Linked DNA regions of Homo sapiens: regions 1, 2, 3, 4 and 6 are each reported to be linked to region 5. Evidence: microRNA targets listed by miRTarBase, many of them from high-throughput screens and not tested one by one. Region 5 holds a microRNA gene; each other region holds the end of a gene's coding sequence. Distances are between the middles of the regions.

Region 1 (5,083 bases), not on the chromosome of region 5:
ACCATTTAATCATGGTAGTAGAGAGAAATGAGTGAGCAGCCATTTCAGAATTGCTTCTGAACATGAAAATTTTGGCTAGACTTAGACCTTAATGACCAGTTTTCCTCGTGATCATTTAAGGTTTTAGTTTGATGCCTGTAATCCCAGCACTTTGGGAGGCTGAGGCCAGAGGATCACTTGAAGCCAGGAGTTTGAGACCAGCCTGGGCAAAATAGCGAGACTCTGTCTCTACAAGAGAAAAAAAAAAAAATTAGCCAGTTGTAGTGGCTTGAACTTATAGTCCTAGCTTCTCAGGAGGCTGAGTCAGGAGGGTTGCTTGAGCCCAGGAGTTCGCGGTTACAGTGAACTATGATTGCGCCACTGCACTCCAGCCTGGATGACAAAGTGAGGCCCTGTCTCTAAAAAATAAAGTTCTAGTTATCAGAAGTGCCATTTTGATGGCACACCTACTGGATTTATTATTTTTCAGGGCCATTATGCTGTGATGAACAACCCCACCAGACAGCCTTTGGCCCTAAACGTTGCATACAGGTACAGCATGCTTTGGGTTTAGGGTTGGTTGTAAACTATTTTGTGCATTCCTTTAATACCTCATACCTCCCTGTGTTCTAGGCGCTGCTTGCAGATTCTGGCTGCAGGACTGTTCCTGCCAGGTTCAGTGGGTATCACTGACCCCTGTGAGAGTGGCAACTTTAGAGTACACACAGTCATGACCCTAGAACAGCAGGTATTGGGACAGATATGAACTGAGTTGTTTTGCCCCACTCTTTTGAATACTGCTGCTCAGCAGGCAAAGCGGAATATGGTCTTTACGGGTCAGGAATTTGGGGATTCTGAAAGACTTTGGTCCTGAGATTTAAAAAGCTGTCTTAATCTCTGTTTTCAGAAGGGTATTACTCAAATAAGGTCCTTTGATTTTCCTTGCTTACTCTCACTTTGCTTTCCTTCAGGACATGGTCTGCTATACAGCTCAGACTCTCGTCCGAATCCTCTCACATGGTGGCTTTAGGAAGATCCTTGGCCAGGAGGGTGATGCCAGCTGTGAGTGACCACTGTGGGTCAGGGGTTTTGTATTGTAATCTGGTACAGAGAAGCTGTACACTACTTAAATGTCTTTAATATTTCCACAGTGTAAGTAATGACTTTTATGCTGGGCTACTCGTCTAAATCACCTTTTTCTCTTTCCTAGATCTTGCTTCTGAAATATCTACCTGGGATGGAGTGATAGTAACACCTTCAGAAAAGGCTTATGAGAAGCCACCAGAGAAGAAGGAAGGAGAGGAAGAAGAGGAGAATACAGAAGAACCACCTCAAGGAGAGGAAGAAGAAAGCATGGAAACTCAGGAGTGACATTCCCTTCACTCCTTTTCCTACCCAAGGGGGAAGACTGGAGCCTAAGCTGCCTGCTACTGGGCTTTACATGGTGACAGACATTTCCGTGGGATAGGGAAGATAGCAGGAAGAAAAGTAAACTCCATAGAAGTGTCATTCCACTGGGTTTTGATATTGGCTTAGCTGCCAGTCTCCCATTTGTGACCTATGCCATCCATCTATAATGGAGGATACCAACATTTCTTCCTAATATTCTATAATCTCCAACTCCTGAAAACCCCTCTCTCAACTAATACTTTGCTGTTGAAATGTTGTGAAATGTTAAGTGTCTGGAAATTTTTTTTTCTAAGAAAAACTATTAAAGTACTTCCTAGTAGGGCTCTTGGTCTTTCTGGTTGGTGTTTTTTGTTTGTTTGTTTTTTTGCATGTGGCAACCTTTTTTGCTTTTGGCTTTGTGTACTCTTTTGTTGAAAATGATAATTGAGTCATTTAATTATAAATACTCAGATCACAATTTGAAGCTGTCTTTGAATTAAAGGACAAACTCCTGGAACCTTTCCATATACCAGAGTAAACTAGAATATCATTTTAAGTATTTATTGAATAAAATGATTCTATCAACACTGCTACTGTATTCAAGCCAGTGCAATAAAAAAGTGGGTGGACAGAGGTCATTCACTTTGACTTTGCCTGCCCCCTCCAAATCCCCAGTGTAAACAGGAAAATGAGAAGTCACAGGTAGAGGACATGCTGTCCAGGCCCATGTAACCAGGCATGTAACATACAAAGGAAGCCCCTCTGGTTAACTAGTCCTGAAGAAGGTAAGCCTCACGTATGCAGCTTAAAAAAAAAAGTAGAGGCCTCAGCTCATTTGTGAAAGGAAGCAAGAGCCATAATTAATGTAAGTCCTTTGGGAACCTCATTCTGGCTGTGTGTAGGTTTCCTGGGGCCCCTACATAAATGGGTAAGACGAAGTGCTTCAAACAAACTGTACGGCTCCCTTTTTAATGTCTGAAGGTCTATGGGGACTGTCTCCTAGGATCTTTGCATGTCTGTTGAAACAAGGCAGCTGGGGAACAGTACTTGTGCTACTGAGTCCATAGGCTCATCTGTTATTTGCCTGGGGAGCCAGGGGGGTAAATTCCCGAATCCAGCATTGCTCTCCTGCGGGCTGTTTCCTTGGCAACACTGTGGTTTAGCCGTCTCAGTCGTTCCTACAAGACAAGGAAGGTTTGGAATCTTAACCACTGTGAAAGGCTTGAGAGTGTAAGTGAACTAGGTGCTGAAAAATACCGGGCGTGATCTACCTCAAAGTCAGTCTTCAAAAGTATATATAAGAATGTAGGCCGGGCATGGTGGCTCACACTTGTAATCCCAGCACTTTGGGAGGCTGAGGCGGGTGGATTACCTGAGGTCAGGAGTTCAAGACCAGCCTGACCAACATGGTAAAACCCGTCTCTACTAAAAAATACAAAAAAATTAGCTGGGCATGGTGGCGGGTGCTTGTAATCTGAGGCAGGAGAATCGCTTGAAACCGGGAGGTGGAGGTTGCAATGAAATGAGATCGTGCCACTGCACTCTAGCCTGGGTGACAGAGGGAGAACTCCATCTCAAAAAAAAAAAAAAATGTAGGCCAGGCATGGTGCTCATGCCTATCCCAGCACCATTTAGGAGGAAGTGGCAGGAAGATCACTTGAGCCCAGTTTGAGAACAGCCTGGGCACCATAGTGATAGCCTGTCTTTTTTTTTTTTTTTTTTTTTTCCCGAGACGGAGTTTCGCTCTTGTTGCCCAGGCTGAAGTGCAATGGTGCGATCTCAGCTCACCGCAACCTCCGTCCCCCGGGCTCAAGTGATTCTTCTGTCTCAGCCTCCCAAGTAGCTGGGATTACAGGCATGCGCTACCACGCCCAGCTAATTTTGTATTTTTAGTAGAGACGGGGTTTCTCTATGTTGGTCAGGCTGGTCTCCAACTCCCAACCTCAGGTGACCTGTCCACCTCGGCCTCCCAAACTGCTGGGATTACAGGCAAGAGCCACCGCGCCCAGCCGATCCTGTCTTTTTATTTAAAAAAAAAAAAAAAAAGGCCAGGCAGGCCGGGTGCAGTGGCTCACGCCTGTAATCCCAGCGTTTTGGGAGGCCCAGGCAGGTGGATCACTCGCATGCAGGAGTTTGGGACCAGCCTGGGTAACATGGTGAAACCCTGTCTCTAGAAAAAATACAAAAATTAGCTGGACATGGTGGTGCATGCCTGTAGTCCCAGCTACTTGGGAGGCTGAGGTGGATGGATCGCTTGAGCCTGGGAGGTAGAGGCTGCAGTGAGCCTTTATCATGCCACTGCACTCCATCCTGGGTGATAGACCTTGTATCATAAAAATAAATAGCCAGGTGTGGTGGTTCACTCCTGTAGTCTCAGCACTTCGGGTGGCCAAGGTGGGAAGCTCACTTGAGCCCAGGAGTTCCAGACCAGCCTGGGCAACATGGAGAAACCCTACTTCTACAAAAAAATACAAAAATTAGCTGGGCGTTGTGCACGCTTGTAGTCCTAGTTACTCGGGAGGCGGAGGCAGAATTGCTTGAGCCCAGGGGGCGGAGGTTGCAGCGAGCTGAGATTGAGCCACCGCACTCCAGCCTGGGTGACAGAGGGAGACTGTCACACACACACACACAAGAATGTAAATGGCAGCAACTGAATAGTGAGAATGAGACGAATTTTCCTAGGTATTTTTCAAGTACTGGGAGAAGTGAATTTCCCTTTCCCCAAAGAATTTTAAAATTACAGTGGCTTTCACTGTGTTGAGGACTTACAAAAAAGGGCAAAGAATCACTGTTGGTAAGATATTCTTTTACCTGAGCATTCTGTAGAATGTTGTTAACCAAGACAACGCGTCGCCGGGCATTAAGTAGCTTCTTAACATAGGGGTCAAGATCCAGGGCCACCTTCTGATCCTCATTTATGCGGCACAGTTCTGGGGATGGAAGTAAGGTGCAGCTAAGATCTAACGGCTTATCTCTTGTTCTGAGGGAAAGCAGGCTGGTAATGGGATGGAAAACACTTGCACCCAAACGGGCCACAGCCATTAGAGATTTAAGACATCCCTGAAAGGAGGAGTCCTTTGGCAGCCCTGATGCCCTGGAAGCAAGTGACAGAAACTCAGCCCAGGGGTTGGCAAAAACCTAAGGTCCTGAAAGTGGGCTGAAGAATTCCGGGTACACAGGGATGCTCACTCACCTGTGGCTAGGTTGTCAATTTGTTCCCGGAGCTCTACCTGGCTCTCTCTGCAAAGAGGTACAAGGCCTACAAGGTCAGGCAGTTACCGGAGCTCAGGAAACGAACTCCCCTACGTATTTACCAAGTACTGAGAGAAGCCGGCCTCCGCTGAACCCTCCACCTGCGGCCTTCCCGCCTGTCCTCCCCGCCTCGAATCAGTTTCCTAAATTTATGCCCACTCCCAGCCAGAACACTTTCTTGGCCCCGCCCCTACAAAGCCAGAGAGACAGGCCCCGCCCCCAACTTCCCTCCCGGGCACCTGACGGCGTGTACGTGAGAGTCGAGCTGCTGCACAGCGGGTCGCAGGAACTCCAGCAGCCCTTCGGCGAAAAGGTCGCGGCCTGTGGGCCCCGCCACCGGGGTCCCTGCCCCCGATACAGCGGCGGAACCAGCCCCCGCCATCACGAATTGTCCTGAAGCCCGAAACCTGCCGCGAGGGCCGCCGGGAACCGGAGCCGCGCCGCACTGCCCCGCCCCGTGAGG
Region 2 (5,344 bases), not on the chromosome of region 5:
AGCTCAAACAGAAAACATACTGGACAAGGTTGGTCCAGAACATGCAATCCTAAATGGCTATGGAATAAATTTATTCTGAGCAATATCTCAGTCTCACACTCACTAAATTCTAGGGTAGTTCTATTGAAGATGTTTACCATGGTTTAGCGCACTGAGCCCTGCACCCTTCCCCAGGCTGCCAGGGAAGCAGAGAGGTACAAACATTCCTAATGCCCCAGTCAGCCTGTTCTCCCTATGGGGTCCCTGGATTACCTGCAGGGACCTGGGGGAAATTGGCTCCCTGTCTTCAGCTGAGAGTCTGGAATCTGAACCCTAGATGAATCTACTGAAGAATGCTCAAGATGATGGATACCAAGCTGAGTGAGTCTAGGGGAGAAGAGAGGCCTGAACAAAAGAGCTGGGGCCTTCAAAGAGGTGTATGAGAGGTGAGGTTAGTAGTGCCAGGCTTTCCTATCTTTTCCTTCTAGTTTGCTAGAAACAAGTACAACTTTAGGGTGTGGGGGGAAGGCAGGTAGACATGAAGAAATGGAAATACAGTTCATTCTGCTAGACATTTTAAACTGGTTTGGCTTGAGAAAAATAGAAAGTCTGTGCCTGAGAACCTTCTTTTCCTCTCCCTTATTTAAGTACAATAGCAGCTATAATCTGTGCAGTTCAGCTCCAAAAAACAGGGCTCCTGGAAGATGGCTTTCATGGCAGAGAGTTGATGGGGTAGATTAATGGGCTCTAGGTAAGGAGCAACACCAAGGGTCCCTGAAAACTGAGGCCAACACCTGCTCCCTGGGGGGGGGCCATTTGTATTCCCTGACCCATGTAACAAGCCTGGCCAGCTGTGGGTGGAATCCATGTGGTTCTATCAGAAGGCTGCAGCCAACATCAAGGCCAGGCAGTCACCAGGGTCAGCTGGGATCTGAAGGGAGGCTTCTAAGACCAGACACCCTGTTAGTACTAAAGATGATGATTTGGGGGTGGGATGCCTGGAGGGGCTGGCACCATTCAAAAAAGTATTGGAAAACATTAGCCAAGAAAAAGGCTCCTTGTCCCTCCTAATCCATATCCAGATACCCCCAACCAGAGATCTTAAAAAGGATAGACCAGCCATATGCCAACATGCCAGGATTCCAAAAGCATGCCTCAACTAATTAGGGTATTCCCTACAGCAGACTGGGGTAGAGGGGCTCCATCCTGGCAATAACCAGAGAGCCTTACCTCGCCTAGGCCAGGGTATGGAATCTAGATGAAGACTGTCCACAAACAGTGGCTCTCAAGCCTGGGCTAAATAAATAATATTTTGCTTCATTACATGGCCAAAGGAGAGGAGGAGATAGAAAAGATGATATTACTACCTCTGTGGGCTGGAAGAACTTCACCTGTTGGTTGAAAGGGGATTAAAGGAAGATAACAGGAAAACCTGGTCTGGAGAAGACATAAATGAAAGCTCCTGGAGGCCACTTTTCTCTGATTAGAAATCTATCCTCACACTCTGCCCCTAGTAGACTTTAGCCTTTGGAGTTCTTAGGGAAAACTGGCTTTAAGCAGCAGCCAGATCACCAAAAACATTTTCCATCTGGTACAGGACCCGGAGCTGAAGCCAAAGTAGATTTTGGAGGAACAGCTGGACAAGCAGGATGTGTATGTCTTACACTAAGAAACTGGTCCCTGTATCAGGGACTTAACTCTTACTTGAGATGTACAAAGTAGATCCTACTAAATTGCCCTTTGGAAGAGAACAATGGGCGGAGGTTGGGTAGGGGAAGGCTTTTTTTTTTTTTTTTTTTTTAAACTGTAAGAGAATGGTTTTTTAATGGAGGTAGCAGGCCAAGTGAAAAAAAGATTCTGCCCCCTGCCTTCCTGGGAGATTGGGAGTTGGCAGCCATCATTCCCAAGCTGATGAGTGGCATATGACTCACCAAGGTGGTACAACATGGGTGGGATTTTTCAAGGACAATTGCCAGACCTAAACCATCCTCCTCAGAAAATGGCTTTGAAGTGGGACTGCAGCACTAGGAGAGGGCAAATTCAAGATCAATGGCCAATAATAAGTACCTGAACTTTAGGTCTATAAGCAGAAGGGCATGGATTTCACCTGAGCCAGAAGGAGATGTGTAGCAATAGAAGCAAGAATGGCATTGTTTCAGAGGAAGGAAAAGCAGAGCTTGGAGCAGGATGCCTCTGACTAACCACAGTGGGGAGGTGGGGGTGGGGCAGACTGTGCCTTCAGCTCCACAGCTGGTCTACACCAACTTCCTCTACTCCCATCCAAACAGGTGGGCTTTACTATCATATGTAATCCACCCAGAGGCACAGGCAAGCCACTAAGGCAATGCACTACCGTAATTCAAACAGAAAGAAGAGGCATCTGGATTATAATTGTCACAAGGAAGGGAAAACCCAAACCAGGTACAAGGATCCCAAACAGGGAAGATACGCAATAGCTCTAAAAAAAAAAAAAAAAAAAGCAGGCTACTAAGTTTCAGTGATAATAGATAATAGGAGAGGCAGCCATGGGTGATCAGTTATGTGGACAATGGCCATTGAGATTGAATTTGACAAGGCAAACTGCTTCTGAGTTTCCTGATACAAGCAGGATGTTCAGCAGTAAGGACAGAGTAGCAGACTTCACCAGGCCCTGAGGCCATCCTTGCTCCCTTCAGGTCCTGGGACAATCAGGCCACGCTGACCTGCTTTATGAAGGTTCCAGAGCTGAAGGTTGGTCCCAGGTGGTGGTCCAGAATCCAAGCAGAGAGGAAAAGGACCAAGCTCAGGCCTCCTGAGCGAGGAAGCATCCATATCTCTTTTTGGTCTTCCTCACAGTATCCTACTTACCGAAATGACAGACAGTTCTTCCTCTTGAGACCAATTAAGATTGACCTACCTAATATATAGAATATAAAAAAATACAGAACTTTTTGACATTCTCTCCTTTAGAAGTAAAATATACATGATCCAACTATGGAAGAGGAAGAAGAAGAAGAAGAAAGGCCAAAGGCAGGGATCCCTGACTATCCCAATACATGACACTCTCACTCCACCCTCCTCTGCAACTTACAGGTCACCAGAGCAAGGACTTTCTCCTCAGGAGAAAGGAAGGACCACAGCCCCCTATCTCAAGCTTAGGAGAAAATACAGCCACCTCAGAGGTTCTCTCAACCTCGAGGGGGAATTTTCAAGTAAACAAATGAAGTTGGGTCGCACCATTTGGAAGGTGAGTAGGAAATATGGGATCAGTAGCTACACGTGGGAAGCCCCATCTGAAGGCCTGTGCTCCTCCCCTGCACTCCCACTGGTATACTTGAGACACTTCAGGAGAGTGAGGAGGATCCCCCAAACTAAAGAGGTCTGGGCAAAGAGTCAGAGGGAGGGAGGGACCTTTGTTTCATGGTAGCCTCCCCAGCCTCTAGTCCCAGGCAATGCAGGCAGCTGGGTTTACTAAAACCAGGAACTTGTGGCTCTTGGGAAGAGCAATCTTAATACAAGAAAAATGTGCAAAAGAAAAAAAAATTAAATAACTCAATCCAAGCGTACAAGATTAATATTCTGTCAGAGCAAGAACACTTTGTTTTGGATTTCTCCCTTCCCCTCCCACCTCCCACCTCTGGAATATACCGTCTGCTCAAGTACCCAAGATAAGAGTTACACAGATCAGGGCAGAGGACCGGGAAGAATGAAAAAAGATAAAGGGAAGGAAGTCACCACTGAAGAAAAAAAGAAAAAAAATAAAAATAAAAAAAGGTGCAAATTGATTACCTTAGTCCTCCTTTGTCTACCCCTGGGCTCCTGGGTTAAAGACATGTGTGCAGCCAAAATATAGTGTAAGGAAGAAAAACCCAACACGTCCCCTTCTTGTCACAAAACCCAAAGGTGAGCCTCAGATGGTTCTGTCTGTCCAGAGGGTGCTCCCTCCAGGGAAGGGGGCGGAGCAGGTCAAGAGCACAGTCTCCAGGGCAGCAGAGGTGTGTGGTGGCTGATGGTGGGGACACTGGTTTCCCGCCCACCAGAGGGCTGCTCTTCCGCTGGCTGGTGGTGCTTCCCATCCCCTCCCCTCCCTGGAGGCAGATATTATAGCTGGAAGCCCTCCATGGGGGCCTCAGGCTGCTGGAAGATGAACTGCTGTTGCGTTTCATCGACTTGGGGAGCCAGGCTGCTATCATCGTCTTCTACACCAAAGTAGTGCTCAATGAGGTCGAAGGCCTTCTGGTAGATCTCCTGGTTCTCGTGGCTCTGGAGAAACTCAATTTTATCCAAGCCTACAGTAGTAAGAAGGAAGGAGAGGGAAGTGTGAGTGCTTTTCTATGGGCAGGTGAAACATTTACCTATTTTTCCTTCCCTGAGGTATGTTAGTGCTTACAAACACAAGTCATATGATCAGATCACTCTTGGACCTGAAAGGGGAGAGTTAAGATTTCTTCTCAAAACTACAGAATCCCAAAGGAAAGAGACCAAAATGTCAGTTACAGAGGTTCTAGTCCTGATTCTGCTTTAAACTAGAAGCATGACCTGGGCACATCATCAGCCTCTCAGGGATGAGTGATGAGTTAATCCAGCACTCTTATAGGTACAGCCTATCAGAAAGAGAACTGACCTATCACTCCTTAGAAGGAGAAGAAACTGGTGAGAGACAACTCTCAACTCAAAAGATGAGCCAAATCCAAATCCTAGCTGTACCCCAGCTACTCAGCACATCCTGATTATACTCATGGTAACGTGTGAAACCCTGTGGATGGTGAAACTTGGCTAGGGCAGGAGCTCTTAACTGTTCTGAAGACACAGACATCAGTCTCATGGAAGCTATGGATGCTTCCCAACCCACACTCCGCCACCACCAACATATGTATACCACGTTGGAGGCCTACAGTCTCAGGTTCTGACCTAGATTGAGGAGAGGGCACATACCATAGGCTTCCTCTATGAGGCCACAATAAGGATTGACCCCTGAGCCACTGCGCTTGCCCTCTTGCTCTCCAAGCCGCAGGATGTTCTCCAGTCCATTGAGGGCCACTTGCACAATCTTCGAATCCATTACAGTCAGCAAGTCACATAGGGGTTTGATGCAGCCCAGTGAGACCAGGTACCTAGGGGCCAGAGACCAGGCAAGTGCTAAACTAGTACAGGACACATGAAGTGCTGGGCAGGTGCTCTGAACTCTCAGCAACCCACTCTTACTAATTTATTTTTTTATTTTTAAGAATTGTGAGGCCGAGCGCGGTGGTTCACACCTGTGATCCCAGCACTTTGGGAGGCTGAGGTGGGCGGATCACAATGTCAAGAGATCGCGACCATCCTGGCTAACATGGTGAAACCCCGTCTCTACTAAAAAAAAATACAAAAAAAAAAAAAAAATTGG
Region 3 (5,223 bases), not on the chromosome of region 5:
TAGGTAATTTACATGTTGTCTCCGTGCTTTATATTATCTTCTGGTATAATAGTAGATTACTTCAGAGTGTTAAAATGTTGCTAGTCGTAGTTAATACTAAGCTTTGGGATATCTTATCTCCCACTGGAAGCTTGCTGTCCTACAAAACCAGTCTCACATAGGGAATTTTTGTCTTTGGTTAGTATTTTGAGTAAAGTAAATTATGCTTTGTAACATTTTTTCTTCTCCGTCTTTTCAGGTGGGAGCTTGTTGGATCTGTGTCTCACTGCAGAGCTGGAGCAGGAGTAGCTGTGTGTTCCTGTTTAACTAGCCAAATTCGAGATGTAGGTCATGGATCCAATAATGTGGTTGACTGTATGTGATTTGAGTTCTGGCCACCAACAATTTAGTCATATCTGATAGGTACAAAAGAAAACCAAGATTTTGATATGACCACCTTTCAACACTTTTTACTGCAACTAGAGTCTTATTTAAATGTTAACTGTTGTATTGTGACTAAGTACAACTTTTGGAATGATACCTGAAGAATTATTAGTAATAGAGTTAAATTTGATACTTCCTGCTTTTGCAAATAATGGAGTAGGGAAGAAGATAGTCGAACTTAAAATCATACCTACCCTGAAAAATGCTTAAAGTAGTGCCAAAAATCTTGAAATCTCTCTCTCTCTCTCTATTTGGATGAATCAAAATGTAATTTGTTGAGTTTTGCCTTTTCTTTTGCCTAAAGATGTTAACGTCAGGCAGTGGGTTTTTCCTAGAGGAGAGATTAGTACCTATTCATTAACACAAGGATACATAAGAGACTTGCCCCTTTTGAAGATCATTTCTACTTGGTGCTGATGAATTTATGCCTAGCTTTTTTTTTCTAGGTGGTGATTTTTCAATTTCTTTTATATTTACGGAAGTAGAAAAAATGTTCTGTCTTTTTGAATGCCACTTAGCTGCATTTTCAGAAGCTTATAGGCTATAAGAAGCCTTTAATTTCAGTTTGAATTGCTAGGACACCAAAAGACCTAGCTGGGCTAACTCCATCCAAATGATTTTACAGTTTTATTTTTTCATCTTTTGCAAAAAGTATTTGTTACATAATCAAAAGGTGAACCAGAGGAAATATTGAACAAGGTTTTAGATCTGATGTTATTCTGGTGCCCAATTGAGAGACCTTGAGAAAGAATGATGCAGATTACATGACTCTAATGTGGGCAGTCTGAAAATATCTTTAACTGTCTTCTTTGATCATTTGATTTTGGATCCAAGATTTATCATCTCTCTATTTTGCTATTTGCCACCATCCTGGTTTTTCTGACTGTACAGAATCAATCTGCATTTATTTATTATCAGAAATGAATGCATTTTTACAAAAACCTTTTTGTAGACTGTAGTTTATTGATTAGTTCAAGCCCATCACGAACTAATTAAACATATTGTTGGTAAAAACAGAGATTGAAATTACTGTTTTTATCATATTTAAATCCCTCTGGTGTATTTATTGAAATTTAATTAAAAATATTTCTACATATTGATTTGAAGCCAGGATATTGATGGACCTACAGATTTAACAGCTCTTCAAAGTTTTAACTAGCATTATAAAATGGCCTATTCATTATATGTATATTTTTTTATAAATATTTATCAAGAACATGAAAATATTTTATTTTGTATTTGCAGTGCAGTTTGGCACCTCTCTTCCAGGCCTTCCTAAGTTTTTGTTAGTTGTGTCTTCGAATTTATTGTAGTTCACCGCTGGTCAGTAATCTGGTTCATAAGGAAGCTGGGGCAGTGAAAAACACTTCGTTGATCCATCCAGCCCTAAAGTTCATTGACTAATAGCTCATGCATCTTATTAAATGGGATTCTGGACTTCTACAATAGTGTGGAAAGCCACATCACAAAAAAAGCCACATCACAAAAAAAAGCCAGTGCCTATTGAGTATATCAAACCAAAAAAGAAAAAAAAAAGTTTTAAGAGGGGTCAGGCTGGCAGATAAAAGTCTCTTATGAAGCAGATATAAATCCAGTAAGCTATTTTTTTCTACCTATGGGCAAGTTCATAAGTCATTGCTGGATCTGAACCAGTGTTCTTTTGTGTAAGTACAACCATATTTCAGTCAGTCCAGAGGCAGTTAACCCTGTAGCACTTACTAGACTGGTGACAACTGGCTGGATGTGGAGAATAAGTGTCAAAACCTGGCTTCAATGTCTATTTCTTATGTCTAATGGAGTTCTTATATTACAGTGTTTGTTTAGCTATGGTTACTAATATGTTTGTTATATTTATTTTCGGGGAGAGGATCTTGTTATTGTTTCCTGAGATTATTTAAAATGTTTTTTCTTTGATGTATTTCTGTCTTTCTTATATGTAAGGAGTTATAAGGGTTATTATATTTTCATTTCTGGTTTTTACTATACAATGGTTATCTAACATACTAAGTTGGTACCCTACCTACCCGTAAAATATGAAATACTCAGAAGTAAAGTGTGTGGGCAATCAGAAGCATAGCCTTGAAGGACCTGACAGCAGTATGAAAAGATAAATAGGCCAGGCATGGTGGCTCACGCCTGTGATCCCAGCACTTTGGGAGGCCGAGGTGGGTGGACCACCTGAGATCAGGTGTTCAAGACCAGCCTGACCAACATGGTGAAACCCTGTCTCTACTAAAAGTACAAAAATTAGCCAGGCGTGGTGGCGCATACCTGTAATTCCAGCTACTCAGGAGGCTGAGGCAGGAGAATTGCTTGAACCCAGGAGGTGGAGGTTGCAATGAGCCGAGGTTGAGCCATCGCACTCCAGCGGTGAAACAAGAGTGAAACTCCATCTCAAAAAAAAAAAAAAAAAAAAGATAAAAAAGCAGAATCAATATGTGCACAGTTCTCTTTATCAGGCAAAAACACGTTTATTGAGACATGAAATGAGAATCAGGCTGAAGGAATCATGCAGCTGAAAGATGATTATATTCATAGAAATGAAGAGATGAAATATTCAAAGAAGATGGCTACTTTATTGTGAGACTTACCACTTTAACCTCATATGTTAACAGCACCTACCAAAAAATGATATGAGATAGAGCTAAAATACTGAAATTGCAAATGGACAAAATAAATCATGAAAATTTGTTTATTATTTCTTCAATAAATATTTCTAGGTGCTTTGTGATTCTTTCATTTAGTCATTAAAGCCATTGCTTTACTATATTGCGTTGCCACTTTAAAAACAAGTTACTTGACATTGTTTTTGACAGATTTCACTATATACTTATGTAATTAATTGATTATTTCTAAAATGTTTGAATAAACTTTGTACTCCCTCTAAGGAGTATTTTATTCATTCTTTTAATTCCCAAATGAACTTTGAACTTACAGTGCTGTTGAATGCCTTGGTAAGGACTTCTTGAAATTGCATAAACTATTCTTGTAAATGGTAAACTTGAGAATTTTCTTTGTTTCTTTTTTCTCTATGTCTTAAAGAATGCCTTTAGAATCTAATTCATGTTGTATCAGTTAAGAATGTTTCTGTGGTTTCTCGTATCAGATGTGTAAAGAAATTATTACTGGGATGCCATTGGCTATGTCTCTTTCCCCTTCATGTAAAATTCCAAGTGTCAGTAAAACTTCTCTATAATATTTTCTTAAAACCATTTATAAATTTGTGTTATAATACTCCAGAAAATCAATGTAATAAGTGGTCATATATATCACCAACTATGGATATCAAAAAGTTGGGGTCACATCAGTGCTATTTATTTAATTAAAATACATTGCATATTTCTATTAGCACAAACTTCTCTCTAAAAGGTCTGTGTAACTGCTTCTCATCATTATTTGATTGCTGTTATGGGATCCTGTCAAAACTGTGTAATTGTTTATTCTCCATTCCTCAAATACAAAATTGAGTAGGTTGGCTATATTTTTCTCCTTATATGAAGGATCTTTATGTTTAACTGAAAATTTTAGAAAGCTTTTCGTTTTCCCTTATGAAAATTAAAGGTTGAAGGTAACTGATGTAAGTAGTTTCACTGATCTTAAGCAGTTGTCTCTTCAGTAATTGCAGACTTGTACTATATAGAAATGAGACTATGCATTAGGATGACTGTTGTCCTTCCAAGTAGAAACCTTGCAAAGTTGTAGCTTTTTAAAAAAATTAAGGTTGCCATTGCTAAAACTTCTTTTGAAACTCATCTTTGAAAATAGCCTGAAGAGATCATTTGTAAGTCACTCAAAAGAATTAGTCTCATCATAGTCATATGTTAATCTTGACCAAAATCTTAACTTGATTATTCATCAAACATGATTGAAAATATTTCATGTCTATTTTCATAGGTAAAATCTACTTTCAAAGAAGTGAGGTTTTTCATCTACTGGTAAAAATGTTTTCAACACTAAACAGTTTGAATGAAATATTTCTAAAATCCTGAGCAATGGCAAGGTCAGTGAAAGAAGTGTATAGTCTCTTTGAGAGGCAACCTTATTTGAATGCAGAAATTCTGGTGCGTTTTTTGTTGTTTTTAACAAGTCACTCTTCCATTATCTTAGTGGTTTGAGGCTAAGTTCAGTAGAATATAAGGGGTTTCTTAGATATGAGTAATAGTTATGGGGAGTATTAGCTATCATTTAAAAAAATGTATCGCCTGTACCAGTCACTTAATAACATTTCTCATCTTTACAGTAATTTGATACTTCACCGTTAAAAAAAAGGTTCAAAAGTTAAAAAGAAAATAGATTCAAAGACATTAAATAACTAGTTGAAGATCACAACTAAGTTAGTGATTGACTAATATTCTTTGTGACTAAAAAACTCAACTGCTCCACCTATATCAGTTATACATACTTCTGCATTCACTAGGTAATACAGTATGCATACATTAAGAAAAGATCATTTCCTTTTTTTGTAGTCTCTTCTTAGCAGTATGAAAGTATTTCTGGTCACTACATTTCTCTTTTGTTGTTGTTGTTGTTGTTGTTGTTGTTGTTTTTTGAGATAGAGTCTCACTCTGTTGCCCAGGCTGGAGGGCAGCAGCATGATCTCGGCTCACTGCAACCTCCTCCTCCTGGGTTCAAGTGATTCTTCTGCCTCAGTCTCTTTTTATTTTATTTTATTTTATTTTATTTTTTGAGACAGAGTCTCACTCTATCGCCCAGGCTGGAGTGCAATGGTGTGATCTTGGCTCACTGCAACCTCCGCCTCCTGGGTTCAAGTGATTTTCTTGCCTCAGCCTCCTGAGTTGC
Region 4 (4,000 bases), not on the chromosome of region 5:
AATGTTCACATTCCTTTCATATATTGCATATTATACTTATTTAAATGGAATAAGATATACTTTGTACTTACCTTGTAATTACCAGGAGAACTTCCCTGCAGACAAAGCGTGTATAAATGAATAGCTACAACAGATGGCATAAGCCTAAGCTTCTTGTTACAAATGTCACATGGGCATAGGAGCATGAATGGTTTTATAGAGTGATTAAGTTGGTTGGCTTGTAGCAGCAAATTCTTTGACATCATAAACTCAGCCACTTGGGCTAAATACCCTTAGTATTTAAGAACTAATCTCTTTCTCTCATAGCTTTCTAATCTCTGTATTTACCGAATTTATTAAAAACAAATGCTTTTGTACAGTTTTTCTTTTTAAAAGTATTCCAGTTAATAATTGAAGAATGACAGAATTAAACTATCACTATTTTTGAGTCCCCTCCCCATCAATGAATGAATCTGGGTCTTATCAGTGGCCGCTAACATCACAAAAAAAGCCAAGACATCAGTGCCTCCTGACTGGAAGTACACATTATGTCTGTGAAGTATTCCTGCCAGAAAATTCCAATCTGAATGTGATCAAGCCTCTAGATCAGCACTATCCAATTGAAACGTGATCCACATATGTAATTGCACATCTCAACTCAAATAGATCACATTTCAAGTGCTCAACAGCTGAATGTGGCTACTATATTGGACAGTACAGCTCTGTTTAACTACTAAATTATAGGACATACGAGAACAGAGGGACATGGCATCACAAGGATGCAAACAACAGTGTATGGAGTCTATTCAGATCCTAATTTGAACAAAACGTAAAACATTTACGAGAGGGCAATTTGAACAATGATTGGATATTTGTGATATTCAGGAGTTGTTACTCCTTTATTTAGATGTGATAATGGCCCTGTAGTTAGATTTTTTTTTTAATCACTTAAAGCTACATAATGAAATATTTACAGATGAAGTAATTTGATGCCTGAGATTTGCTTCAAAATAATCCAGGGTGAGTGGAGGATGTATAGATGAAACAAGATTGGCCATAAGCTGATAATGATTTGAAGCTGGATGATGGGTACATGGAAAAAAATCATTGTACTATTCTCTTTACTTTTGAATGTATTTGAAATTTTCCCCAAGTTAAAAAAAGAAAAAAAAAGACTGTGGGATAACATTACAATAACACTGCTCATATTCTTGAAAGTACAATTCATTAAAGATACTACCATGAGTCTCTCTAAACCTGAAAGAACCAGTGGCTACTGCCACCACCACTACACACAGGTAATAAACCAGGAAAATCTTACAAATAAAAACCGAACAAGAGTAATGCTCATGTTTTGTTTTGTTTTTTAATTTTCTTTGTTTTGAGACAGAGTCTCGCTCTATTGCCCAGGCTGGAGTGCAATGGTGTGATCTCAGCTCACTGCAACCTCCGCCTCCTGGCTTCAAGTGATTCTCCTGCCTCAGCCTCCCAAGTAGCTGGGATTACAGGCGCCTGCCACCATGCCTGACTAATTTTTGTATTTTTAGTATAGATGGGGTTTCACCATGTTGGCCAGGCAGGTCTTGAACTCCTGACCTCAAGTGATCCATCTACCTTGGTCTCCCAAAGTGCTGGGATTACAGGCGTGAGCCACCACACCCAGCCTGATCACTTTATTAAAACCTTGCAAGGGCCAAAGGAAAAAGGGATTTTTTTTTTCTCCATCTGTGGCTAAATGCCACCTTCTTGGGTTCTGCTGTCCGAGTTTTCCTGAGTCCCTGCAGCACATTCCCTGCCCTCACAGCAGATATCTTAGTGGCAAGGCTGTCCAGACACCAAACACACATCGTACAATTCACCTTATTTCTACTCTTCCTGCATCTCATCAGAGAGCAAATGGTGGAGATATCTAACAAAAAGGCACACAGGATTGTGGAGCTCTATGAGGGTAATCATATCAGATTTTAAGATTTATAAGCGTAGACATACATTTTGGAGACATGTGGCCCTCATTCCCTATCTGTTGACTCTATATAATGTATAAATTAATGCAAATTAAACAACAGAAAAGGGACAAAGCCATTAGTATCTTGCACCCAAAAGCTTCCAACTACAGTACGTAACATTATTTCCAAAATTGATGGTATCCTTACCAATCCAGACTTGGATTTTGCAGATAAAGTTTAGCATTTAAGATTCAAATTCCTGTAACAAATGCCTGCTTAATAAATTTGAATTTTTGAATGAAAATATGTTTCATCAATGTGAAAGTGTGTGTTAAGTGATTTGGAAGGCAACAAATTGGCAGCAAAGGCACAAACTAAAAAATAAAAATGATTTTTATTTAGTTTTTTGGAAATATAACAAAATAATTGGCAAAAACCAAACCAAAACAGAACCAAAAAAATGACATGTTATATGAGTGATCATCTCCAAGCACAACAGCATTTATTAATGAATATAAAAAATAAATTTTACTTTTTTTTTTTTTGAGACGGAGTCTTGCTCTGTCTCCCAGGCTGGAGTGCCGTGGCGCGATCTCGGCTCACTGCAAGCTCTGCCTCCTGGGTTTTACACCATTCTCCTGCCTCAGCCTCCCCAGTAGCTGGGACTACAGGTGTGCACCACCTACGCCCAGCTAATATTTTTTTGTATTTTTAGTAGAGACAGGGTTTCACCGTGTTAGCCAGGATGGCCTTGATCTCCTGACCTCGTGATCGGCCCGCCTCGGCCTCCCAAAGTGTTGGGATTACAGGCGTGAGCCACTGTGCCCGGCCAAATTTTACTATTTTTATTTGCTTTTTCCCCTAGATTTGACTACATGGATAGTTTTAGAAGCTTGAGTTCCTAAGATAATTCCATAGCTACACTGGCTCCTACAATGTGACTGAGTGAGGTTAGGGAAATATCCTTGGGGATTCTGAACAACTAGACCCTTAGAAACTTAAAAATAACAGGTGCTTTCATTAGGATCCTTCTAACATGGAAAAAATACAGCCATTGTCCATTAAAATACAATCCAATTTGGGTACTCTTCAGGTTTTCTAAGTTCTCCATCTGAATAATAAGACTAGGCCACCATCTTTTCTGGCAACCCAGCCTACAGCCACTGCCATCTTCCTAACTAGCAGCCTCCTAAGCTGCACTAAAACTGGGATTAACACAACTGAAGATAACATTTTTGACCTTTCTTCCTAGAAGTCAAAGGGCTCTTCAGGTAGGAAAGGTCAGGAGGTTTTGCATCAAGCTTGCCTTCACACTCACTATTAGTAGAAGGGCTGTGAAATCTACCCATCACACACCTGTATTCAGTGTTTGAGTGTACTTACCCATCAACACACAAGGAAGTTAGAGTAAATTAACAAGTCACTCTGGACCAAGCCCCTCAAAACAGAGGCAAATTTGGTGAACCAAGGTCATTCACTGCCTGTGGTAAAAACCTCAGTTCACCTAAGTCCTTTCCTGAAAAACCACATTAATCTGATTCAAGAGGCACCTCTGGCCAGCACAGAGCACAGAAGGAAAGCATAACTTCAGGGTAGGGGAATGCCACATGGAATTTAGAAGTTGCAGTTTAGTCTACAGCAAAAGATGGCACCATCGCTAATATTTACAGCTGGAAAGAGCGCTGGCTGGACCACACTCCTGGAGCATCTTTACTAATGCAGCTTAACAGCAGTTGCCCAGATGTCGTTGCTGGGGAGCGGGGGAAGGACCCATCCTTGGGGAACGAAGTTGCCTTTGGGATGATCGGATGGCACCAGGTACTGATCCCAATCATGCCTTAATAAGAACATTATAGAACAACTATTTATTTCTGTTTTATTCCAAATAAGATGTTCAGCAACTACATATTCTAAGACTTAGCTTTCAAATGACTGATATACTAATCTATTACAGAACTTGATTTCTAGGAATCAAGAAAATGACTATATTTCTTAAATGTACATATAAAAAGAGGAAAAACTCTGAAGAACTTAAACCTTATGGATAACCAAATAACAAATAAAGTCAATCCTCA
Region 5 (5,344 bases):
CGTTTCTGTGTGAAGATTTTTAGCTGTATTTGTGGTCTCTGTATTTATATTTATGTTTAGCACCGTCAGTGTTCCTATCCAATTTCAAAAAAGGAAAAAAAAGAGGGAAAATTACAAAAAGAGAGAAAAAAAGTGAATGACGTTTGTTTAGCCAGTAGGAGAAAATAAATAAATAAATAAATCCCTTCGTGTTACCCTCCTGTATAAATCCAACCTCTGGGTCCGTTCTCGAATATTTAATAAAACTGATATTATTTTTAAAACTTTATACCGGGAATTCTGTTAATTCGCTCGCCCGCCGGCCTCAGGGTGAGAGCTGGAGCAGGCTCCAAGCGCTCCCGCGCCTGCCGGCCCCCTGCAAGCCCCCAGCCCTCTGCACTCGCCTTCCCCGGAGCCCAGGCGCCCGGCCCCGGCCTTCTGTTCGTTCTCGCGATCGCACTGAGGGGCTGGGAGGCCTCTCTGGGCTCCCTGCGCGGAGCAACACACACACCCTGCGGGAAAAAGCCGCGTAGGATTTTGTTGCGGGGGGAGCTGGGATCAGTCGGTTTGGGCACCAACCCCACGCAGGCCTTTCTTCCTGCCTGTGGCAGCCGGTGTCCTCGGCGTCCGAACCCTGAGGCGCCCCGAAAGACCAGTAAAGAAGCACTATCCAGGCACCAGGGTCTCCTCCACCCACTCCCGGGAGTTGGAGGCGGGGGGCGCCGTGAGAGCAAGCCCCAGGCCCGCGCCAAGCTGGCTGTTGCGAAACGTAGCGGAGGCGGAGAGCGGAGGGAAAGAGAAGACCGCGGGACTGGAGCCCTGTCGGCAGGGATTGAGCGATTCAAGGACATCTCGAGAGAGAAAGCCTGGAAACTGAGCTCTCGCCTGCTCTGGTACTCCTGACGTGGCCGGGACAAAATTCCTTCTTCATTACAGCTCCAGCCGGGCTGGTTCCTTACTTTTCTCTCCTCAAACGGGTGAAGAGGCGGGTGAGGAGCGCAGCCGGACCCTAACCATTTATCAACCCTGGCCTTCTCTCTCCAAGCCTGGCCAGAGAAACCTGAGTGGGCCTACAGGGAGAGGTGTTGAGGAGGGTCTCCGGAGGGAAAAAATCCGCCAGAGTTTTCCGGGCCCTTCAGATTCCCTCCAGCGCCCCCACCCTCGCCTCCAGTGCCTCCACCAGTGAGGAGGGGGCCTTCTCCTGGCGGGGCGGAGATTTCCTGGGAAGAAGCAGGCAGGGAAGTATGAGACTTGGGGCTACGGGGGAAGAGGATGGGGCCGAATGGCTGCAGATACCCTGCGAAGGCTACCCAGGCGCCTGCCCTGCCCACCCCCCAGGTCCGCCCCATTCCTCTTGGTAGCTCAGAAATTGCTCTCTTGTGAACCTTATGGATTCAGGTCCCTGGAAAGCCTAGCCCAGAGACCTTTTCCCCAAAGGGCACATAACGGGCCTTTTCCTCTGCCATGCTCACGTAATATTTGTGGAGGCTTCAATCTTGCTTCTCCATGTCCTCAATTAACATCTATTTTCTGTCTAAAACCTCTGGCATAGGTACCACATAAGGATCGCACACAGGGAAACAGAGCAGTCCTCTAGACCATTGTCTGGCTCTGTCCGTGTCCACACACACACTTGAAAATTGCCTTGTTGCCACTCTGGGGACCCTAGCATGGTGAGGTCTAGCCAACTCCACCTGGCTCCTCACCTCCAGATCCATCCCAAACAGCCTGCAACACCCTCAGCTTCATGACCCCCCTATCTTGTTCTGACCACTCAGGATCCCTCCTCCTGGGCGTCCTGTCTACCTCTTCAGAAGCTAATTCTACTTTCTCTTGCTGATAGGCACCTCTTCAGCAGTAGTGGAGCCTTAGGGCCTGAGAGGCAAGGGACTTCTACCTTTGGTTTAGGGAACCTAAGTTAAACCCCATTGGTTCTCCAGCCTGGGCATAGGCCACCTTACCTAACTTAATCCCCTTTCCTCAGCCATTTTTGAAGATTGGAAGACCCTGGAGGTTGGGAGAACGGGACTTTCATTACAAAAAGCACTCTGTGCGTTATAAGTGGGGCCTCGTCTTTTCCCAATTTTAAATAGAATTTAAAAGGCTAGCTCAGGGGTTGCCCCAACAACCAGCTTCTCCTTCACAGTGTAGGAAATCCAGCCACCGGAAAGCAAGCTGGCGCTCCAGGATGCAATTCCCCCACATAGGCACCAGGTGTCGCTGTGGGCTTGTTGTCCCGGCTACCCCCAATTCCAAGAACCTTTTTTTTTTTTTCCCTCCCCCTTCCCTCTTTCTCTCTCTCACTCCCTCTCCCCCTTGGTTGGGCTTTGCCAACATATCGAGATGCTTTTCGCCGGCTTCCATCACTAACCTCCCGGAGGTCATCAAGCCAAATTTATGAGTGGCCGCTCGAGTCACGTGACTCTATTTAAGGCTCCCTTATTTGGGAAGAGCGCATAGGATAAAGAAAGAGATATCTCCACCTATAAATTGTCCACTTTGGAGAACAAAAAACCCCTCAACTTCAAAGAGTCACAAATCACCCTTAATCAAAAAGGGTGCAGAAATTTTTTTGGGCCCTCCCCGCCATGAGCTCCTACGTAGCCAATTCATTCTATAAGCAGAGCCCCAATATCCCTGCCTATAACATGCAAACTTGTGGGAACTATGGATCGGCCTCAGAGGTGCAGGCATCCAGGTACTGCTACGGCGGATTGGACTTAAGCATCACTTTCCCACCGCCTGCGCCTTCCAACTCTCTCCACGGGGTAGACATGGCTGCCAACCCCCGGGCTCACCCCGACCGCCCCGCCTGCAGCGCCGCGGCCGCTCCGGGACACGCTCCGGGCAGAGACGAAGCGGCTCCTCTGAACCCCGGGATGTACAGTCAGAAGGCGGCTCGCCCGGCGCTGGAGGAGCGAGCTAAGAGCAGTGGGGAGATCAAAGAGGAGCAGGCGCAGACAGGGCAGCCCGCCGGACTGAGCCAGCCACCGGCCCCGCCACAGATTTACCCGTGGATGACCAAACTGCACATGAGCCACGGTAAACTTTAGGACTTCATTTTGCGCTCTCGGGTCCGCCTGGGTTTTATAGGCCATGCGGGGCAAATAAAGAAAAAAAACCTGCGGCCATAAATTTTACGATCCAGGCATCAATGGCTCGTAAAACTGTCCACTAAAAGGCTTAGAGGCTGTGTGCGCCCAAATTTACGACGACATAATTGGATCATAGGAACAAAACGTGTATAAAAGGCAATATTCAATTTTTGGGGGAGAGGGAGGGAGTTAAAAAAATAGAGGGATCTGAAGGGTGAGGAGCGCGGGGCTCCAGAGCGGGGATCCCCCCGCGGCTCCCTCCCTCCCTCCCCTGCGGAGCCGGCTCCGCCGGCGCTTGCGGCTCCGGAGGATTCCAGCGACTCGGGAGGGGCGGGAGGGGGGTCCCCGGTGCTCGGATCTCGAGGGTGCTTATTGTTCGGTCCGAGCCTGGGTCTCCCTCTTCCCCCCAACCCCCCCTCAGCCCCTCCGGCTGCAGAGTGAAGGCTGCGGTGGAAAGTTTCCTGCCTGGGCGGAGGCGCCTCTCCCGGGGCTGGGCTGGGCTGGCCCGCCTGCGGCCCGCGTGGCCTGTCTTGCGGCTCTCGCCTCCTCTCCCTCCGGCCGCGGGTGGGGGCCTGGGCTGGGGTGGGGACGGGGGAACGCTGCAAGCTATTCACCCCTTCCTGGCTTGGGGTGGGGTTTATGTTCCAGAGACGGACGGCAAGCGGTCCCGAACCAGTTACACGCGCTACCAGACTCTGGAACTCGAGAAAGAATTCCACTTTAACCGCTACCTCACTCGCCGCAGGCGCATAGAGATCGCCAACAACTTGTGTCTCAATGAGAGACAGATCAAGATCTGGTTCCAGAACCGCAGGATGAAGTGGAAGAAAGATTCCAAAATGAAAAGCAAAGAGGCTCTTTAGAGGCAGCGGGGGAGGCCCGCAGAGCGCGCCCCTAGCCGGTTCCTGTCCCTGCGCCTTTCCTTTTCGCCTTTCCTCTCTATATTTCGGGTCGGGGGCAGGTGCTGGAGCACTGGGCTCCCGGGCCCCACAGACAAAAGCGCTTTTCCTTGGCATTCCGCATCCCTACCGACCCAGGGTTCCCGCGGGGCTGTCGGCGCTGCCCCATCTCCCCTCAGCTCGGCTCAGCTCGGTACCCGGGGCCCAGGGCAAGCTCCGCAGGACTTCCCCGGAGGGCTGCGGCGTACAGGCTGGCGCAGAACGAACCTTGGCCTGGGCCGTATCTCCGGCTCCCAGCCTCAGCGCGGCCCTCCCGAGTTAAGGTGGGCCCGGCCCGCGCCACAGGACCCTCGCCGGACCCTCTAACCTCGCCCTCTCCTTTGTTCCCGGCTGGACGGGTTAGACAGCCAAAGGCTGGCGAGAGTCTGGCCCTAGACTCGGGGTGCTTCCTTGTAGCGACTAAACTAGATTTTCACTTATGAATGATTTGCATATGAAAGGAGAGCATCGGCCTAGGGCCCCCACAGTTGCTCTATGCTTTCCAAACCTTATCTCCACAACCTCTTCCCCCCAAAACCCGGGAACCTCCCCAGCCTGCGCCTGCTGCATGCCCTCTCAGGCCGGCAGCCCCAGCCTGCTAGCTAGCTCAACTAGTGGGGTTTCCTGGCACTGGACCCCAGCAAGTGGTCCTAGAGGCCCTTTGCTGTCCCATAGTCCCTGCCACGAATTTCTGTGCCCTCCTGACCCATTGCTGTTGTCCAACTATTTATTGACTCTGGGTCCTTCCTGAAACTATATTTTGTCATATCAAATAAAGAGAGAACAGGACTAAAGATGCAGTGGCTCCTGTCTGTTTGGGGCATGTATTGGGTAAAATTGTCTAAATGGGCTGTGAGATGTAGAAGGAGACCCACAAACTTTAAGCCACCCCTTTAAAAAATTTTCTAGCTTCTAGGGGCAGTGAGTAGAGGGAGGTGAAATTGAGCTCCTTTCCTGTTCCTTGGCTGCAACAAGAGCCTCTGGGGGAAGAGAAGGGCACCTAGGCCTCGAGTACTGGCTTTTCCCATGCTGTGGCTGTCCAAGGCCTTCACGCCTCTGCACTCCAGGAGGCCTCTGGACTGGCAGCAGCCCCCACTGTGTGCCAAAGCTGCGGTGCAGGAACCAGTGGCTCCACCGTGCTCAGCCTTAGGACCTTCTGGGCCTCTGAAGATCTTTCCTGGGCCTAGGTGGTCCCTGAGAGGCCTTGCTGGACATAGAGGGAGGGCTGAGCCCTCACTCTAGGGACCCATTTGGTCTCATAAGGGCCTCTAGAGGGAGGTGGTATTGCTTGGTAAGGGGGTGTTGGGAGAGTTGGAGGAGGTGTGCCTCAGT
Region 6 (4,000 bases), 69 Mb from region 5:
AGCAGTAGATGACTGCAGTAAGTTGGTGGTGATGAGATGTAAAGGAATGTGGGTTGAATGTCAATTTTTGAAGTGAGGAGTGTTTTAATTCACGTTTCTTAGGTTTCACCATTGTTAAGACTTGATATTTTTCTAGAAAGTCCTCGAGTGCCATTGTTCACCAGGCAACCATGTGTGACACTCAAGTAAAAATACATGTACAGGCTGGGTGTGGTGGTTCACACCTGTAATCCCAGCACTTTGGGAGGCTGAGGTGGGAGGATAGCTTGAGCTCAGGAGTTTGAGACCAGCCTGGACAACATAGGGAGACCCCCCATCTCTATAAAAAATTTAAAAATTAGCTGGGTATGGTGGCATGTGCCTGTGGTCTCAGCCACTCCAGAAGCTGAAGTGGGAGGATCACTTGAGGCTGGGAGATCAAGGCTGCAGTGAGCTGTGATCATGCCACTGCGTTCCAGCCTGGGCAACAGAGCGAGACTCTGTCTCAAAAATGAATAAAATTGTGTGTATCTAGAATAGTAAGAAATTAGGCTCATTTTGATTATGGTTCATAAATAGTAACTGAGTATAGTAAGAGGATTATGATGGCAAGGTACAAATTAAAAATCTCAAGTTTTTACCTTCGCTCCCCACAGGTTTTCATTAAAACAACAACAACAAAAAAAATTAAAGAGAATACATAACTTTAAAAATATGACAGAGGTGAAAGCTACAAGAATTACACTGCATCTGATTTTATACTCACACAGTCTAATCCAAACTGAAGTTCTGAATGAACTTTTCCCAGTCTCCCTATTTGATTTCCTAGGTAAAGGAATTTAGTAAATAATGAGAACAGGGAACTAAAAGGTAAAATTCATCTTTAAAACAGTAATTTATCAACTTTTAAACTAAGAGTGAGAAAGCTACCACAGACTGGCTTTTATGTAGTAATAAAAAGTTTAAAATCACTTACTGTCAGCATCTGTTTTTAAAAAATGAAATACTTACCAAACTATATGCAAAAAGTATTTGCATTAAAAGTTGCCAGCTTAATCATGGAAAATCTCTTATAAGGCTGCTTAAAGGTTCATGTTTTTTACTAAAAATGGTAGACTGTGAGAATGTGTAAAGTCAATTTTTGAACTACTAGTACTTTTTTTTTTTTTTTTTGGAGACCAGGTTTTACTGTTGCCCAGGCTGGAGTGCAGTGTCGTGATCTCAGTTCACTGCAGCCTCAACCTCCCAGGCTCAAGTGATCCTCCCAACTCAGCCTCCCAAGTAGCTGGGACTGCAGGCGCACGCCACCATGCCTGGCTAATTTTTGTATTTTTTATAGGGACAGGGTCTTGCCATGTTGCCCAGGCTAGTCTTGAACCTGGACTCAAGTGATCCTCCCACCTCGGCTGGGATTATAGCCATGCATCAAAGCAGCTTGGCCCTATTAGTACATTTTAATCAGAGATTAAACTATGTTGCATTTTAAATTTCAGTTTAAAAAAATGATTCACACGTTATACACAAGGACAATTTTAATCCTGCATTTTCCTGGAGTAACATCCACTGCTGGCTATCTATGGATTGTAACTGCATTTGCTAAGAACTGTGAACACAAAGAAACTTTACATGAAGTCACATGTTGATACAGGCACACAGACATCTTTCAGCAGCAACAGACTACATACATAACGCATACCAGATAGTCTCGATGGATAAATCTGCTTCACCAGTAATTCTATTTAGTAAAATCCACAGTTAATGGAGAATTCCATTTTTTAATTTTACATCTTTACTACACATTTTTCTAATACTTTATTTTTAAAAAACACTCATTCAAGATTGTAATTTGCATGGCGATAAACAAGGGTTCCATGGGTTCTAAGTTTCTTAAAAGTGTCCACAGCAACTTAAAACACCACAAGTCTTCTTTCCAATTTGCAGCACCTGACTTAAAGTTTAAATTCATCAAATACATCATTAAAACTGTCATTTTCTCTTGTGAGAAGACATGTTTCAATTGCTATTTCCAGGACTATATATTGAGCATGGGTGTACAGTACTTTTAACTGGTTAGCACAATTTTACTCACATAATTTATAGCCAGAATAAGAACCTCTAGCCTCTCTGAACGGCCTTCCACTCAGAGCAGATGATGACGATAAATGTCTAAAATGTATCTGGGGTACTCCACTTGACATTACCAAACATGCTTCCAAATAATCTTAGAAAATATGATTCTTTAAACATATGCATAATATTCTACCACACAATGCACCATCACTTCTTTAACCATTTCCCAATTGTTCATTTATAACATTTGCAATTTTTTATTATAAATAATATTGTGATGAATACTTTCATCCATAAGTTTTATGCAAGGCTGATTATTTCTTCTAATGTCTTCTAATGTCAAAGAAGTGGCTTACGGGTTCAAACAGCGCACATACATGGTTTTAAGGCTTTTAGTATACTTTACCAAATAATCTCCAGAATAGCTCAAACAACTCCTACCAACAGTTATGTTATTGTGCCCACAGGGTGGACTTCATAACAACACAGCAAATTCAACCACAGATCTATTAGATTCTCACCCATCTCAAAACTATCACATCAAAGAAGCAAGGAGACATATTACTGGTGAGGAAGCCAAATTCAAATTCTTTTAAAAAATCACTCAGCTTTAGATCAGTAAAATTATCAACAAAAATGCTCCCCACAAAAAGTCTACCGGGTTTTTCAAAAAATAAAGTTAAAAAGAGAGAAAGAGAAACTCAGGCTGGGTGCGGTGGCTCACATCTGTAATACCAGCACTTTGGGAGGCTGAGGTGGGCCAATCACGAGGTCAGGAGTTCGAGACCAGCCTGGCCAACATAGTGAAACCCCATCTCTACTAAAAATACAAAAATTAGCTGGGCGTGGTGGCGGGCGCCTGTAATCCCACCTACTTGGGAGGCTGAGGCAGGAGAATCACTTGAACCCGGGAGGCGGAGGTTGCAGTGAGCCGAGATCGCACCACTGCATTCCAGCCCAGGCAACAGTGCGAGACTCTGTCAAAAAAAAAAAAGAGAGAGAGAGAGAGAGAGAAAGTCAGTACCAAATGACCAAAATTTTTTATTTGACTAAATTCTATTCATGCATGAGCATGACAGTCTCCCGTTTATTTGACTTTGGCAATAAAAAAACAAGCAGCCTTGTACAGAACAGTGAAAATGCCAAGGACGAGGACAGTCTACAGTTTTACTGTAGAATATATATATATGTATACATATGTGTATATATGTATACATATATGTGTATATATGTATACATATATGTGTATGTATATATATATACATGTATACATACACACATGTATATATACATGTGTATATGTGTATACATACATATATGTGTATATATACATATATATGTGTATATATATATATATTTTAAAAGGCCTCTCTCCCTTTGGCCATATCAACTCTCAGTTCAGGCCATTAAATACAGACAAATTTTCAAATTCACTTCTTTACTTCTCCAAGATCTTCGATGCTGTCATCATCTACCTATAAAACACAAATAATTATATCTCATGAGTTGTGGTTGCAATTAAGAAAAAATGGAAGCAATTTGCTTTAAAAACTTATCTCTAGCGATGTATGTGTTCCATGCACTCACCTCTGGCCATTTTTCCTGAATGACATCAATTATGTCATCTGTAAAATCTCCCTGAATGATAATTTCATCCTCCCCTGTTACTGAGGCACCACAGGAGAATTTTTGAGCAAAAAATCTTTGTGCTTCTTTAAGATCAATTTCTATTTTTTTAAAAAAAGAAAGAGCAAGAACTGTAATTGGAATTGTGCAAAGATGTTTTTCCATTTTGAAATTTAATCTGCATTTTAAAATCATAAAACAGATTGTTAATGGGTTTTATATTCCTTTCAGAACAATACAAACTACCACAGAGATCTTAACAATGCAATTTACACTTTCAAGGTCAAATAAAGGCTCAATACATAAAAACAGAATCATCTATACT

The links. The annotated mature microRNA hsa-miR-615-3p reads UCCGAGCCUGGGUCUCCCUCUU and lies in region 5 at 3,455-3,476, shown strand. An mRNA with a match to its seed (bases 2 to 7 or 8) in the 3' UTR can be bound and repressed. Matches are read on the target gene's strand: a 7mer-m8 pairs with bases 2 to 8, a 7mer-A1 pairs with bases 2 to 7 and ends in A, and an 8mer does both.
Region 1: miRTarBase lists ILF2 as a target of hsa-miR-615-3p. The part of its 3' UTR that is shown has no 7-base or 8-base seed match.
Region 2: miRTarBase lists KPNA6 as a target of hsa-miR-615-3p. The part of its 3' UTR that is shown has no 7-base or 8-base seed match.
Region 3: miRTarBase lists KLHL8 as a target of hsa-miR-615-3p. The part of its 3' UTR that is shown has no 7-base or 8-base seed match.
Region 4: miRTarBase lists PDCD7 as a target of hsa-miR-615-3p. The part of its 3' UTR that is shown has no 7-base or 8-base seed match.
Region 6: miRTarBase lists DENR as a target of hsa-miR-615-3p. The part of its 3' UTR that is shown has no 7-base or 8-base seed match.

What each region holds. Positions count from the first base shown.
Region 1 is chr1:153,658,663-153,663,745 of GRCh38, reverse strand. ILF2 (interleukin enhancer binding factor 2) reads left to right here. Exons shown (of 14, transcript NM_004515.4): 11 at 470-531; 12 at 613-727; 13 at 951-1,041; 14 at 1,190-1,958. The coding sequence ends at 1,350. It overlaps SNAPIN (SNAP associated protein), which reads right to left and starts at 5,043. Exons shown (of 4, transcript NM_012437.6): 1 at 4,860-5,043; 2 at 4,562-4,608; 3 at 4,180-4,298; 4 at 1,894-2,546. The coding sequence starts at 5,002. The coding sequence ends at 2,445.
Region 2 is chr1:32,169,610-32,174,953 of GRCh38, reverse strand. KPNA6 (karyopherin subunit alpha 6) reads right to left here. Exons shown (of 14, transcript NM_012316.5): 13 at 4,894-5,072; 14 at 1-4,247. The coding sequence ends at 4,060. Among named protein-coding and RNA genes, the nearest start is that of TXLNA, 7.4 kb to the left of the region's middle.
Region 3 is chr4:87,158,658-87,163,880 of GRCh38, reverse strand. KLHL8 (kelch like family member 8) reads left to right here. Exons shown (of 10, transcript NM_020803.5): 9 at 1-3; 10 at 239-3,778. The coding sequence ends at 362. Among named protein-coding and RNA genes, the nearest start is that of KLHL8, 59 kb to the left of the region's middle.
Region 4 is chr15:65,115,079-65,119,078 of GRCh38, forward strand. PDCD7 (programmed cell death 7) reads right to left here. Exons shown (of 5, transcript NM_005707.2): 5 at 2,301-3,762. The coding sequence ends at 3,639. It overlaps UBAP1L (ubiquitin associated protein 1 like), which reads right to left and starts at 122. Exons shown (of 6, transcript NM_001163692.2): 1 at 72-122.
Region 5 is chr12:54,030,556-54,035,899 of GRCh38, forward strand. It overlaps MIR615 (microRNA 615), which reads left to right and starts at 3,395; the gene lies at 3,395-3,490. HOXC5 (homeobox C5) reads left to right here and starts at 2,495. Exons shown (of 2, transcript NM_018953.4): 1 at 2,495-3,021; 2 at 3,723-4,806. The coding sequence starts at 2,568. The coding sequence ends at 3,937. HOXC6 (homeobox C6) reads left to right here. Exons shown (of 2, transcript NM_004503.4): 2 at 1-268. It also overlaps a transcript of HOXC4 not described here. RefSeq lists enhancers at 2,010-2,304, 2,299-3,450 and a silencer at 3,534-3,593.
Region 6 is chr12:122,768,558-122,772,557 of GRCh38, reverse strand. It overlaps DENR (density regulated re-initiation and release factor), which reads right to left. Exons shown (of 8, transcript NM_003677.5): 7 at 3,637-3,776; 8 at 1,494-3,524. The coding sequence ends at 3,480. Among named protein-coding and RNA genes, the nearest start is that of CCDC62, 4.0 kb to the left of the region's middle.